2 linked regions of the Homo sapiens genome follow. The protein of the gene in region 2 purifies or fractionates together with the protein of the main gene of each other region. This does not show direct contact. Each region holds a gene or a part of one and is shown on either strand. Other genes may lie near its edges.

Region 1 (7,393 bases), on a different chromosome or scaffold from region 2:
GGGATGGGAGGGTAAGGGTGTTGCTTGCTTTGTAGCTGTGGAAAGTAATCTTGAAATCTGGCTTGTGGGTCCTGTGAAGTCAAGAAAGGTGTGAGAGTTAAGGGGTTTCAAATTAATTTTACTCAGGATTCTTTGTTGTTGAAGAAGAGATGGAAGATTTTTTGAATGTCAAAGAGTTTAATGCTAGTAGATTTATAAAAGAGGGAGATTGATGTGTCTGTGTGGTGCATTTTTTTCATCCCTGCCACCGTGTAAGATTTTAATTTGCATTCTTTGTGAAGGTGATATTTCTGGGGGAGATAAATCCAAGAAAGGGGTAAAACGGAAGAAGATTTCAGAAGAGAGTGGAGAAACAGCAAAGCGGCGGTCTGCCCGTGTCCGAAACACCAAGTGCAAAAAAGAAGAGAAAGTAGACTTCCAGGAGCTTCTGATGAAGTTCTTGCCGTCCAGGTACTGTGTATTTTTTCTGATTGTCAGAAACAAACCCACAAAGCTCCAGCATACACCATCAGTAACATTTCTCATTCCATTGCCACCCTCTTCTCTGGTCTCCTCCTCTGTGTTCCCATAACATCTGTGCAGATGTCTGAAGCACAAATCTCACTGGAGTAGGATCTTGGATTTTTCTCGCCTCTTCCCACCTCTGAAATTCCTGAAGTCAGGAGCTGTGACTTGTTCATCTTTTGAGAGCTAGAAGCAACATACTCATGTCCCTGTGTATTTACAAGACATCTATTTGTTGCTGGGAGGCAGAGGGGTGCTGTGCCTTGGGTGCAGATGCCCTGAAAACCCCATGGAAGGGAGCTTCCCTCCTGCTTTCAGGGAGTCCGTGTCTACTTGATTTGCTCCAGGCTCAGCAGGATTCCCTTGCATTCTGAGAAGGTAGAGGAGGAGCTTGTGAAGTATTCCTGGGTTTCACTCATTCTTAGTGCTTCTCAGGAGCCTAGGGGACAAGCAGGAACCAGGCTCCCCAGAGCTGGGAGGGACTTGGTCCCCAGTGCTTCTTACTTAGGTTTTCACCAGTCCTTCTGCCTTTTTTTTTTTGAGACGGAGTCTTGATCTTTCGCCCAGGCCGGAGTGCAGTGGTGCTATCTGGGCTTACTGCAAGCTCCACCTCCCGGGTTCATGCCATTCTCCTGCCTCAGCCTCACGCATAGCTGGGACTACAGGTGCCTGCCACCGCGCCTGGCTAATTTTTTGTATTTTTGGTAGAGACGGGGTTTCACTGTGTTAGCCAGGATGGTCTTGATCTCCTGACCTCGTAATCTGCCCGCCTCAACCTCCCAAAGTGCTGGGATTATAGGCATGAGCCACGGCGCCCGGCCAGTCCTTCTGCTTTTTGTCCTTGCCTGCTCACCTCCTTCAGAGGCTTTAGGATCCTCAATTTCTGAGCCTTCCTGGAGTTTATGGTGCCAGTGGGTTGGTTTCTTAATACTCCCCTTTCTCCTCCCTTAGCTGAGTGGAGAGGCCTCTCTCGGCAGACACCATTCTTCATTTGCACTGGGCCATCTGCCTTCTAACAGTTGGCTGGTACATTTTTTGTCTGCTGGGGCATCCTCGCCTATCTTCTGTCTTTGTGAGTTTATACCTTTTTTACTCCTTCGTTGTTACTGGAATGGAGTTTGGGAGCTAACCATATGTGTTCGATATGCCATCTTTAAACAGGAGTTAAACTATCTAGTTCTTTCCCATGACAGTTTATTTCAGTGGTAACAACATCAAAGTGGTGAAGGAGAAGCCAGAAGCTTTAGGTGGTTTGTAAATTTATTTTACAGCAAGATTCCTAATTTTCTTAATTTGTTGTCTTTCTGAGGTGAAGGTGAAATGCTTAGAAATAATGATTGTTCTCAGTACTTGACGCAGAACCAAAGTGGGGCTGCAGTGCCTTCTGATGAATTTTTCTTAAGGGGTAATACCAGAAGAAAGTTTCTCTTTGGAAGAACTGCAGGATTGTTCTTTGGTTGATGGTGCCAAGAGATTTGAGTGACCCTATATTCCCCTTAGCCCTGCTTTTTACTCCAAGGTCTTGTTCCCTAGTCCCATTTACCTGGATGGTTTCGACTTTCTTTTTAATCTTCATTTTAGTTGTTGGTTTCGTTTGTGGTTTAGTGTCTGCTCCTTTGTTGTTTATTTTTGTTAGAGATGGGGTCTTGCCCTGTTGCCTAGGCTGGAGTACAGTGGCACAATCATAGCTCACTGTGGCCTTGAACTCCTGGACTCAAGGGATCCTCCTGAATACCCAGGACCACAGGTGCACACCACTATGCCCAGCTAATTTTATTTCTTGTTTTTTGTAGAGATGAGGTCTTGCTATATTGCCCAGGCTGATCTTGAACTCCTGGCCTCAAGCCGTCCTTCTGCCTCCACCTCCCAAAATGTTGAGATTACAATCTTGAGCAACCACACTTAACTTAGTTTCTGCTTCTTTGAATGGTCAAGGCAAGAGCAACATGGTAGCTCGCCTGATGGAGTCACCCTGGGAGTGTGTGCAATACGTGAATGAAGACATTCACAAGTGCCCTGAGTGTTTATGCTGCAGGGGTTCTGGGTTGAGGGAACACCACAAGGTTGGCTGAAATGGGTCCTTGGGAGGAGTGCCTGCCAGGAGAGGCATCCCCAGTCCCGAGACTGGGCCCACCCACAGCTTTGTGAGGAGCCACGGAAGGACCAAGTTCAGATGAGCTTGATGTATCCCCCAAACTCCCACCTATCTATCCGCTTTCCACCTTAGTTGTTGGGCTCCCATGAGGTCCTAGAACACACCAGGTGCTCTTCTGGCCTGTGCCTTTGTACCTGTTCTTGTCCTGCATCTTTGTATTGCAAGCCCTTCTCCTCCTCCAGTGTGTCAGCATGAACATTATCCCCTCTCAAAGGCTTTCTCTGACCCTGCTCTCTAAAGCAGGGCCCTTTTGACCCATAGTCTCAAGCACTCTGTTGTGAGGTGGTCCTTATTTGGGTTAGTTTGTGTACCTGCTTATTGGCTGTGTCTCTCTAGAGGGTAAGCTTACTGCAGGCAGGATCTGCCACATTTAGGGCTGCTGTATTTGGTGCCTAGCACAGTGCCTGGCACATAGCTGGTGCTCGGTAATCATCTGTTGATGAGATGAATGACCGAGACAGGATACAGACCAAATGCTGGCTCATGAGGCCCTGGAGAGAGGCAGAGCCTCCTGGAGGCCTGGGTTCTGGACCCCACCACCCACTTATTTTAGCTGCCTTCTTCCTGACTCAGATTTAGTTTCTCTAACAGGAAGAGTTCAGATGCTTGTGTCAGAACGTGTGTTGTGACTTTGTGATTTTGGCATGTTACATGCAGGTTAAGAAAGCTGGACCCTGAGGAGGAAGATGATTCCTTTAATAACTATGAAGTCCAGTCAGAAGCCAAACTGGAAAGCTTCCCAAGCATTGGGCCTCAAAGGCTGTCATTTGACTCAGCCACATTCATGGAATCTGGTAGGAATCGAGCAGTGTGACCATTCACTTTGGGAATTCTTCTTCCCACTATCCTATAACCTGCTTATGTTTTGTTCTGGGAGAATGGTTCTGGGGTGTTTTTTAGTGTGGCCAAGAGTCTGCCTGGATTAGTCTTGGACCTAAGCCCTGTGGTCAGCTTGGAGGTCTTCTGAAATGTCCAGGCTCATACTTGCTATGCTTTCTTATGGCCAAATTCAGAGACTTCGCTTTGCAAATTGAATCTATATAAGCACACCTGTTGAGTGTGTATCAGTGTATAACTGTTGAGTGAGATTAGTGCACATGGCAGCACTTGGAGGTCTGCCCTTTTGATGTCCACCTTAGATACGGAGATTCAGAGAGGCTCAATCATAGCTGCTGAGGGTTGGAGCCAGGCATTGAACCCAGTAGCCTGATCTCAGCACCACAACGTGGTATCATGTCCACCTGGATCAGATGGTAGAGGGAGGGAACAGTCTTTACTGTCCCAAAGTAAATAGGAGACCCTGGCATGGAAGGTACTCTTTATTCAAGTCAGGTTGTTCTTGCTCCCCGGGCAGAAAAGCAGGACGTGCATGAGTTCCTGCTGGAGAACCTAACCAACGGGGGCATCCTGGAGCTGATGATGCGCTACCTGAAAGCCATGGGCCACAAGTTCTTGGTAAGGTGGCCTCCAGGCTTGGCGGAGGTCGTGCTCAGCGTCTACCACAGCTGGAGGAGGCACAGCACCAGCCTGCCCAACCCGCTGCTGAGGGACTGCAGCAACAAGCACATCAAGGTTAGGGGGAGCCTCTCAAGGGCTGGTATTGAACTGGGACCAGGGCATGGGGACAGGGATCTTGCATGGGTGTGGGGCTGCTGTTGTGTTTGGCTGCATCTACTTGTGGGCCTGGAACCTGGTTTTTTTGTGGGTGTCGAAGCAGGAAGTCACTGAACCTAGTTTGTGCCTAGAAAGCTCCCTGATGGCTGAGTGGAGGATACACTTAGGGGTGAGAGTGGGCTCACGGGGCTATCAGGAGGCTGCTGCCATGCCAGGGGAGCAGTGGCTGAGATCCAGTGGTAATAGTGGGGTGCTGGTTTGTGGTTGCAGAGCTGATAGGTTGAACTAGACATGGGATGTGTGAGGGAATGAGAGTCATGGGGAGGGCTTCTCGGGTTGTTTACTGAGTCACAGGAAGCCTTGCCAGGAGAAGCTGGAGGAAAGGGAAACATTTGGTTTGTTTGAGTTGGCAAGGACTGTGACTGAGGCTTTTGTTGTTGTTGTTTGAGACAGGGTCTTGCTCTGTTGCCTAGGCTGGAGTGCAGTGGTGCAGTCACGGCTCACTGCAGCTTCAACCTCCTGGGCTCGGGTAGTCCTCCCACCTCAGCCTTCAAAGTAGCTGGAACCACAGCCGTACACCACCACACCCGGTTATAGTCCCAGCTACTCAGGAGGCTGAGGCAGGAGAATGGTGTGAACCCGGGAGGCGGAGCTTGCAGTGAGCCGAGATGGCGCCACCGCACTCCAGCCTAGGCGACAAGGCGAGACTCTTGTCTCAAAAAAAAAAAATTTGTTTTGTTTTGTAGAGATGGGGGTCTCCTTTTGTTACGATGTTAGGATGTGGTCTTGCCATGTTGCCATGTTGCCCAGACTGGTCTGGAACTCCTGGGCTCAAGTGATCCTGATGCCTTGGCATCCCAAAGCACTGGGATGACAGGCGGGAGCCACCATGCCTGGCCTATGACTATTTTTAACAGATGATAAAACAGCAGAAGCTAAATAGCGTGCTTAGAGAAGCTTTGGGGGCCACCAGCAGTAGGGGGCTGAGCCTCACTGAGCCTTGTCTTCCTGCTGCATTCCACACCCCAGCCTCCTCCACTTGGTGCCTCCTGGAGCTCAAGGGAACACAAGGTGCTCTGGCCCCTTACTCCTGTTGGAGGTGGGACACTGAATGCTGAAGCAGGAGCACCAGGAACATTCAGGGATGCCTGGTGGTCTTTCTGACTTGAGAGCACAGGAGGTAGAAGAGCTTGTAGGTCAGTCATCCCTTGGTGGGCACCCTCCACTGAGTTACCTCAGGGCAACCTCCTGGCAGCTTCTGCCCACCAGGCCATGCTCCCCTGGGGCAGTTGTGAAACAGCAGGAGGAACCAGGGCTTTGATCCCCAGGCAAAGCAGGCTGATGATCACCTTCCAGCTGTGCCCAATGGGCAAGTGCCTTCTCATCACTGAGCCTCAGCTTCCTCAAGTGCCCTGGGAATGGTATACCAGCTGCCCAGAACTTTTAAGGGTTGAGTTCTATAATTTGGATGCAGTGTCCGTCCCAGCACTTGGCAGGTGACAGGGCTGCCTCTTCAACAGGACAAGAACTCTGAAGACCGGTCTCCTGGCCTCTCCCAAGTCTTGTCCCAACATACATCCATGTGGCTCTTTTTATGTTCTGGCGAGTAGCCACTGATTATCACTTATGAAATGGCAAGTGGATAGAAAGAATTATATTTTTATCAAAAAGTATAGTTTTGTTTCCTTCCACAGCCCCCTACCCCCCACACTGTGAAGAGGCTTTGTGATACTGTTCTTGACCTTCCTGTGTCTGTCCTGCAGGACATGATGCTGATGTCTCTCTCCTGCATGGAACTCCAGCTGGACCAGTGGCTGCTGACCAAAGGCAGAAGCTCTGCAGGTAGGAGGCATTATGTGTTCTGTGGCCAGGCTAATATCTGAACCCCCAGCAGCTGGGAGAAAGCTGAGGCGGGAGACTGAGTCATGGAATTTAGCCTTATATCTACAGTAGGCACATTTTTTGGGTTGGCTTGTCAGGGTCCCAGGGAAATCTCCTGGATACTCAAGAAGTGGTTAGCAGTAGCTGAGCCCCCAGAGGGAGCCACCTCCCTGCTTTGCTGTTACACAAGATTGAAGGAAGTGGGATCTCAGTTTTGGTGTGACTGTTCAATGCAGTGCTTTATGTATTATGTAGCTTCAGTAATTTTTCTGGTGATACGGATTTTTTTTTTTTTTTTTTTTTTTTTTGGTAAGACAGCGTCTTGCTCTGTCACCCAGGCTGGAGTGCAGTGGCATGATCTTGGCTCACTGCAACCTCTGCCTCCCAGGCTCAAGTGATTCTCCCATATCAGCCTCCCGAGGAGCTGGGACTACAGGCGTGTGCCACCATGCCTGGCTAATTTTTGTATTTTTTGGCAGAGATGGGGTTTCACCATGTTAGCCAGGCTGGTCTTGAATTCCTGACCTCTAGTAATCCGCCCACCTCAGCCTCCCAAAGTGCTGGGATTACAGGCATGAGCCACTGGGCCCAGCTTCATTCTGACTTTTAAACTACCACCTGGTGGAATGTAGATATACTCAATGCTGTCTGTAAAATTGCTTCCCCTTGCCCTTGCCCCTGACTCTCGGCAGGGGGCAGGGTCTCTGCATATCTTTGTCTTAACTGGTCCAACCTCTCTGATGCCTGCCACTCAGGGAGCTGTAGGGCTCTGAGGGGCTTAGGGTGCCCCTGGAGATAGGGTGGGTGTGGTTAGGGCCAAGTGCAACTTCTGAGAAGCAGAAGGGCATTAGAATGCTACACATGAAGTTGACTCGTTGGCCTGATGGTTTTTAGTGTCTCCTCGGAACTGCCCTGCTGGTATGGTGAATGGCAGATTTGGACCTGACTTCCCAGGGACCCACTGCCTGGGTGACCTCCTACAGCTGTCATTTGCCTCGTCCCAGCGCGACCTGTTCGAGGATGGTTGGCTGGAGTTTGTGGTCCGTGTTTACTGGCTGAAGGCTCGCTTCCTGGCGCTGCAGGTTAGTTCCATGGTCAGCTGCTTGGGGAGCATGCCCTGACACCCAGCAGGGTGGGCAGAAAATTGACCATGTTGAGGGTGTGTGTGTGTATGTGTGTGTGTGTGTGTGTGTGCATGCATGTGTACATGCATAGCACCTGCCCGGGCACTGGGCTTGG
Region 2 (7,788 bases):
CCAGGGAAATTCAGTCACTTGTCAAGTCCTTCAACTAAGATGACCAGGCTGGACCACAGTCCAGGTCTCTGCCACCAGGCAAGGTCTAGAAGCTCGCCCCAAACACCCAGCCTTTCCCAAACCTCAGTAGAGTGTGACGCTGCTACAATTTAGGCCCCTCACCAGAAGTGCCACCACCTCTGAGCTGGCCCACAGCCTGCCACCCTTGCAGCGCTCCTACAAGTATTATCTGGGGTGAGATCAGTCCTCCTGAGCCCCTCTTTCCCACCCTTTCCTTTGCCTATTGGCCTTGCAGTCATCCACAGCAAGTGACCTATAAGCTCTCTGGACTTGCTTCCTTATCTTGGAAAAGGGGGCTCTTTGCAGTAGCATTCTATGGCTACCCTATTCCCACCTCCCCTGAGCCCCCTCCTGCCAAAAGCCCTATGCCCTTCGTTTGTCATTCCTAGGCTGGCATCACAGACACGGGTGAGCTCCCCATCGCCTGTTGCTGCATGCAGTGTGGGTCTCTGAGGGACTTGGCTGGAGGGCGTGTGGGGCAGGTGCTCCCTGTGGGGGTTGCCTGGGGTGGCAGGCAGCAAGGTGGCAGGGGGGGCCAGGAGGTCTGATCTTTAAGGGAAGGCTCAAAGCTGCACAAAGGGCTCAAAACTGCAGAGTCTCGAGGGCACTTGGACTGGTGCACAGGCTAAACCAATGCCCAGAGGAGAGGAGGAACTAATTCTAGGCCACACAGATGGCATGGAACTGGGACCAGGACCCACTGACTTTAGCTGGTGGTTTAGAATCCACAGGGGCCTCGTTAAAGATGACAGAGAAATTAGGATGTGGTAGATCTGGAGTGGGGCCTGGGAATCTGCATTTTCAGCAAGCCCTTGTGTGTACAGACGTGCATGCCTGTTTGCATGTGTGTGTTGGGGTTAGGATCTTGAAGCACAGCCAGCTGGGGCTGGACCACCCAGGGAGGAGTCACAAAGGTTTTCAGAGCTGGATTTGTGGTCCAGGCCTTGGGGGGCCAAAGCTGGTCATCCACCAGGGCCACACACCCGGCAGGAAGAGGGCAAAGGAAGTGCTGACCTAGGGGCCATTTGATTGTGCTGGAGCAGAGGCCACACTCTGTCCTTGCCTGGCCCAGGCTGGATGGGGAGCCCCCACTGCAGGCCACTGTGGCTCCTGTCCCCATCCTCCCCCCGGGCAGGCCCAGTGTCTAGACTCTCAGACTGAAATTGGTCTTAGAATTCTTTCAGCTACAATAACAAACACAATCAGAGAATCAACAAACATTGGGAGGTTCACGTTTCCAAGTTGGAAGGGACCTTATAAGTAAACGGTCATTTCTAGCAGACCGCCCATTGCACAGATCCATTCCCTGGCATTCCTGCCAGATGGTCATCCCACAACTGTTGGAAATGAGTAAGATCTGCCCTTCCCCATGCACCTCCTGCATGCTAGACATTGTCCATCTATCTCAAGTGAGCCCCTGTATGCCGCAGGGTTGGAGAGAACTACAAGAAACCTTGTACCATTTGATTGATAGGTTCTACTGCTGTTTCTGAGGCCAGATAGACCTGGTTTTGAATCCCACCTGCCTGATGCGTGGTCCTCTCTGACCCTGAGTTTTCTCATCTGTAAAATAGAGTGATAGTTGCCCAACTCCACGGGTCATTGAGAGATGTATACAAAGGGCCCAGCACATGGATGTGTTGGCTATTATTAGAATATTAATTTTCCCCATTTTACAAATACAGAAAATGAGGCTCAGAGAGGTGGGGAGACTGTCCTAGGTTACCCAGCCAGTGAGCAGCTGCACTCCACAACCCCAGAGGTTTAGTTTTAATGACATCCAGGAGCTCTGGGCTGGAACTCCTGACTGCCCCGAGACACCTCTGGAGTCACAGAGTGTACCTCTGTTGGGCTCCACAGCCCCTCTCCAGAGCCCAGAGAAGGGTGACAAGGTCTGTGGGCCAGGTCTTCACCGGCAGCCTTGCCAGGACAGAGAGGAGTAATTATGGAGCTAAAGCCCAACCAACCACACGTTAGGGTCACCTGGAAAACTATTCAAGTACCAAATTTTGAGACCCATTCTAGCGCCACTAAATTTGAATTTCTGGGGCCAGAATCTGCACTGTGAAAAAGCTTCCCAGGCAGTTCCAAGGCTGCTGGTCAGGCACTGGGAGCCATTGGCCTGTACCGTGCATGCATTAGGGGACGGGAGTTTGCTACCTCTCATGGTGGCCTAATCCACATGGATGGGACATTCTGCGCATCCCAAAACTGGAGAGAGAAAGCCTCCCATTTCGGTGAGTTACCCAAGGCTCTTCCCCTCTGTGCTCACCCCTGAAGAGCTGAGGGGGCTCCCCATTCTCCCTCCCACCCATTCACACTGGCATCTGGCCCAGAGGATTACTTATTAGGTGGCTGGGAGTGGCCCGCCCCTCAGCAGACACCTGTTATAGGAGCCTGGACTTCCCCCTTAGCTCCAGCGTCCCAGGGGCCTGTAAATAATTCATCCCCAGCCCTCTCCCCACCCCACTGCTCTCACACACCTCCCTGCCCGCTCCTTCCCAGGCTCCAGAGGTATCTTGGGGCAGTTGGGAGTTCCAGCCCAGAGCTGGGACTGGAGCCCAGGGCTCCTGGGGCTGTCATTAAAAATACAAATTAACACATACACTTGATAAAGATTTAAAAAACCCAAAGTCTCCCTCCTACCTGTGGCTTTCCAACCTCCAGTGCCCTCTCCAGAGGCAGCCCCTATTACTGGCTTCTTGTATATTCTTTCAGAAAGAACTATGTTTGGGTATGTGTGTGTCTCCCCCATTTTTATACACAAATGGTAACATACTATTTACACTATTCTGTCTTGCTTTTTTTTTCACACGTCTTAGAAATTGTTCCATACTGGGATATATGGGGTTTTGAAATTTCTTTTTAATGACTGCATAATGCTCCTCTCCACGAATGCACCATCCCTTCTCTCACCAGCTCCCTGCTTGTACACGTGTACATTGTTTTTTGTCTTGTGTTATCAGAAACAGATGGAGCTTTGGGCAGCTCTTGGTCGGATCAGTTACTGGAAGTGGGATTCTTCGGTCAAAGGGTATGTGCCTGTTAAATGAGGCTAGATATCGCCAAGTTGGGCGCTAAGGAGGATGTTTCAGTTCTCACTCCTGGAACAGCATATGGGATTCCCTGGTTTCTGAGCCACACGGTGTGATAGCAAACATTTTGTTCTTTGGCAGAGCCATTTTCTTGCACGAAAATTGTGTGTTTCAAGCAGCTCCACCAGAGAGAAGTTGGCCAATGGGTTCCTGAGCCCACCAGCTCCTCTCCAGAGCCCAGAGAGGAGTGACAAGGCCTGTGGGCCAGGTCTTCACTGGCAGCCTTGCCAGGAGAGAGAGGAGTAATTGTGCAGCTAAACCCTATCTCCATCTGGTCTCACTCCTGACCCCCTCCCTTGTGGAAGAGCTGGGCCTGAGGTCAGAAACCTGAGTCCTGGTTCATACCATGACCAGTCAGGACAGCCCTCTGCAAGTGCCCTTTCTGAGCCCATTTCCCCCCACCTATGAAATGGCTCTCATGGGTCTGGGCTTGCTCGTCAGAAGAGGCAGGAGTGGGTGCTAGGACTCTAAGGAAAAAGCACCTTCAGGACCACTGCCTGTCATCCCTAGGCGAAGGTCTGGGTGGGCAGGGAGCCTCATGCCCTACCTCAGGCCTGTCCTCCTGGGGGTGGCTGTGAGTCCTCTGGGCATTTTAAGGGCCCCCAGCCTGGGGCTCTCAGTAGCCTTCCCTCACCATGGTCTGGGCTCTCCTTTCCCAGAAGTAGCAATGGAGGGGTGGTCTGCTATTTAAGCTTCTGTTACCAACACTTTGGGGGCTCCATGGCAGGCTCAGTGGGCCCTAAATTTGGCAGCATGCGGAATTGTACCCTGGAGAGGCAGCAAGAGCTCTAGGGCATGGGGCATGGCCTTGGGCAGGCCCGTGCCTGCCTGGGCCTCAGTGACCCTGACTACACAGGGAGGTAGGACTGGAAGGGCTCACCAGGCCTCTTCTTTGGCCCTCCAGCTGCCATGCAACCATTGTGAACCCCGATCTCTTCCTCAGTAAAGTGCGAGGAGACTAAACTCTCACAACCGCTTCCAGCTTTAGCCCAGTGAACCCAATGGGTCTGTGGATTCAGAGCCATGTTGGCCTCCAGTGCTGGTGGCATTAGGCAGAACTGTTTTTGAGCCGGCGTTGCATTTTCTAGGCCAAGGAGGGGCCCAATCTGGAGCCAAGGCCTGGGCAGCCACTCCCTTATCCCTTTCCTGGGGCCAAACCTGGCTGAAGTCCGAGGCTATCCCGTGCTATGCTGGGCAGCGGACTGAGGTCAGTGGACATGGAAGCGTCCAGTGTGGTTCCTCTGCTCTGGCAGGAAACCCAGGGAAAAGCTGCCCAGGAACATCTGCTGCCTCCCATTCTCCACAAAGCCATTTGGCTCACGGAGAGCCCAGTGGCTGTCCTGCCAAGCTGCGTGGGCTTGGTGGAGGGGGACAGGCGTCAGAATGGGGGCGGGTGAGTGGTTAGTACAGGGGTGCTGAGGGACAGGCAGGGCCAGGGCTGAAACCCAAGAAGATGAAGGCTGGGCTGTGGTGGGGACACTTGCGAGAGGCGGGAGGGGTTGATGGTCTTTCAGAGACCCGCCATGCCCTGGTGGGAGCGTGTGCGGGTCTGGAAGTGCTTGCGTGCGCCTCCTATTTATAGCCACGTGCTCAGCTTCTTATAAAGGAAACTGGTGCTTAGCCAGGCCCCACACAAGCCCAGGCCAAGCATGACTCTTAGTATTCTCTCCAGACAGACCTCTGATCCCAGTCCCAAAGAAAGTCCTGACATTAACCTCAGCTGGTCCTCAAATCCAGCTCTGGGCCCCAGGCTGAGCCTCATAAAGAAGCCAAGGCACCGCCCTCTCTCCTGGGTTACGGCAGCTCTCCCTGCACTTCCCCTTCCTCTTGCAAATCTGTTCTCCATGCAGTAGCCAGAGTAATATTAAAACCTACATCAGACTTCATGTCTCCTCTGCTCAGAATCCTGCAATGGCTCCTGTCCCAGACAGAGGAAAACCCAGAGTCCCTCCCCTTGTCTCCTGTCCCGTCCCCCTTCTCACTGCACCTCAGCTCCACCAGCTTCCTCACAGCTCCTCACTGTCAGACAGCAGGCAGACAGCAGGCATGCCCCACCTCGGGGCCTTTGCACTTGCTGTTCCCTCTGCCTAGAAGCCTCTCCCCAGATGTCTGCATGACTCTTTTTTTTGTTTATTTTTCTTGAGACGGAGTCTCACTCGATCACCCAGGCTAGAATGCAGTGGTGTAATCCTGGCTCACCACAACCTCCACCTCCCAGGTTCAAGCAATTCTCCTGTTTTCCCGCCTCAGCCTCCTGGGTAGCTGGGATTACAGATGTATGCCACCACGCCCGGCTAATTTTTGTATTTTTTAGTAGAGATGAGGTTTCACCATGTTGGCCAGGCTGGTCTTGAACCCCTGACCTCACGTGATCCACCTCCCTCAGCCTCCCATAAAGTGCTGGGATTACAGGTGTGAGCCACCGCGCCTGGCCCTACATGACTCTTTCCTGTACCTCCTTTACACCTTTGCTGAAATTCCCCTTTTCAGCAAGGCCTTCACGGCCCATTCTATTTAAAATCACAGACCACCTCCTCCCTAAATTCCCAGTCCTCCTTCCCTGCCTCCTTTTCTTCTGAAACACTTATCAACTAGTGTATCAAATATTTTATGTTTATTTTTCTTTTCATCATCTCCCTCCCCTAGAAGCTAAGCATCACGAGGGCAGGGGTTTTATTTTGCTCAGTGCTGTAGCCCAGAGCTTGGCTCACAGCAGGAGCTCAGTGAGGATCTGTGGGATGAGCTGCATCTCTCCTGCCCGGTGCCTGGACACAGGGGGATGTGTGGACGGCTTGGGCAGACCAGCCTCCGGCCTCTGGTGCAGGCCCAGCTCAGGGCTTGGTATCGTGAGCCAGAGCCTTTGAGGTAACTGGCAGGTCCTAGGGGTCCAGCAGCAGCCCCAGTCCTCCCTGTCTGATGTTGAGGCCATCCCCAGGCATTCGGCAAGAACTAGGGAGCCCACACCTGGGACAGTTCCAGATTCTTTCTGCTTCCACCTCTACCTGTGGTGGCTCTTCCCTTCTCTCTTCTCTTGCACAGGAGGAAGGAGCAGCTGCCATCTCATTAGTCTTGATCACCCTTGCCTGCCCGATATCCCCTCCGTGTCTCCAGCATTCAAACCTATCTGATATCTGACCACAGAGTGGAGAGTTTGTTAAAAATGCAGATTCCACCCCCAGGCTTTCTGACTAACTGGTCAGGGATGCCCAGAACCTGTGTTCTTCACAAGCTCCTGGAGAATGGCTGCTGTGCAGCCACATCTGGAAGCTGCTGGTTTAAAGTTGTTGGAGCTGGCCTTCAGAATAGGGCTCTGGGTCAGGAGACCTGGGCTGAAGCTGCAGCTCCGTCAGCAGCCTGCTGTGTAACCCTGAGCTGGTTGTTTTGCCTACCTCACTGCCTCCCTGATGGGCATGGGAGGAGTACTTGCCTCCCAGACTGTGAGTCTGTGGGTCTGAGTCTGGGAAATGACTGTTTCCCTTGAACCTGGAGTGTATGTCTCTCCCCACCTCAGGGTCCTACTTCAGGGAGCCTGGATTGTCTTCCTCCTGGGGGTCCTGCCTGGGCCTTTTTTGTAGCCTCCTCCTCTCAACTCACCTTCCTTCCCGGCTCCTTCTGCTTCTCAGGTAAGACTCGGACCAAGGACAAGTACCGCGTGGTCTACACCGACCACCAACGCCTGGAGCTGGAGAAGGAGTTTCATTACAGCCGTTACATCACAATCCGGCGGAAATCAGAGCTGGCTGCCAATCTGGGGCTCACTGAACGGCAGGTGTGTCTGTCTTCCTATCTCAGCCATAGGAGCAGTGCGAGGACTCTGGTCTCCAGGCTGCCAGGCAGAGTACAGAGCTCAGTAGAAGGAAAACAGAGAGGTTGAGTCTCCAGGCCATTGTCACACAGCACAGCAGAAACTGAGGTGCTACCAGCACCCTCCCTTAACAAAACCCAGTATCCTTGCCCCCAAAGGCAGGGGTAAGGGGATCTGATTAGCCACAGGCTACAGCAGGCTATTATTAGTGCTGTAGGAGGTGCACGTGCTATTTACATTAGGGGAGCAGTCACAGGGATAACAAGGAAGGCTTCCTGGAAGAAGTGTGGCCTGGGAAGATGGAGAGGGGGAAGGTTACAAAGAAGGGCATCTCCAGGGTAGGGGTGCAATGTCTAGAGGGGGAGAATGAATTCAGGGTCCATGTGGTCTGGGAGGCTGGAGAGGAGATAAGCCACAAAGCCACATGGAGAAATAGGGGCTCACTGTCCTCGTCTCTCCTTCTTGCACTCTCTCTTTCACTCTCTCCCTGCTGCCCACTCCATCTCTGTCCTCCAACCCCACAGGTGAAGATCTGGTTCCAAAACCGGCGGGCAAAGGAGCGCAAAGTGAACAAGAAGAAACAGCAGCAGCAACAGCCCCCACAGCCGCCGATGGCCCACGACATCACGGCCACCCCAGCCGGGCCATCCCTGGGGGGCCTGTGTCCCAGCAACACCAGCCTCCTGGCCACCTCCTCTCCAATGCCTGTGAAAGAGGAGTTTCTGCCATAGCCCCATGCCCAGCCTGTGCGCCGGGGGACCTGGGGACTCGGGTGCTGGGAGTGTGGCTCCTGTGGGCCCAGGAGGTCTGGTCCGAGTCTCAGCCCTG

What was found. Proteins that work in one complex are often made in the same cells at the same time.
Region 1: the proteins of CDX1 (region 2) and CABIN1 purify together in Homo sapiens (affinity purification with mass spectrometry; 2 studies listed by BioGRID and IntAct, with this or other methods). This does not show direct contact.

Annotation. Positions count from the first base shown.
Region 1 is NC_000022.11:24,055,911-24,063,303, forward strand, and holds part of CABIN1 (calcineurin-binding protein cabin-1), read left to right. Parts: intron 1-281; coding exon 282-450; intron 451-3,316; coding exon 3,317-3,453; intron 3,454-4,013; coding exon 4,014-4,231; intron 4,232-6,036; coding exon 6,037-6,115; intron 6,116-7,048; coding exon 7,049-7,236; intron 7,237-7,393. UniProt on the Homo sapiens protein: May be required for replication-independent chromatin assembly. May serve as a negative regulator of T-cell receptor (TCR) signaling via inhibition of calcineurin. Inhibition of activated calcineurin is dependent on both PKC and calcium signals.
Region 2 is NC_000005.10:150,175,990-150,183,777, forward strand, and holds part of CDX1 (homeobox protein CDX-1), read left to right. Parts: intron 1-6,778; coding exon 6,779-6,924; intron 6,925-7,484; coding exon 7,485-7,691; 3' UTR 7,692-7,788. UniProt on the Homo sapiens protein: Plays a role in transcriptional regulation. Involved in activated KRAS-mediated transcriptional activation of PRKD1 in colorectal cancer (CRC) cells. Binds to the PRKD1 promoter in colorectal cancer (CRC) cells.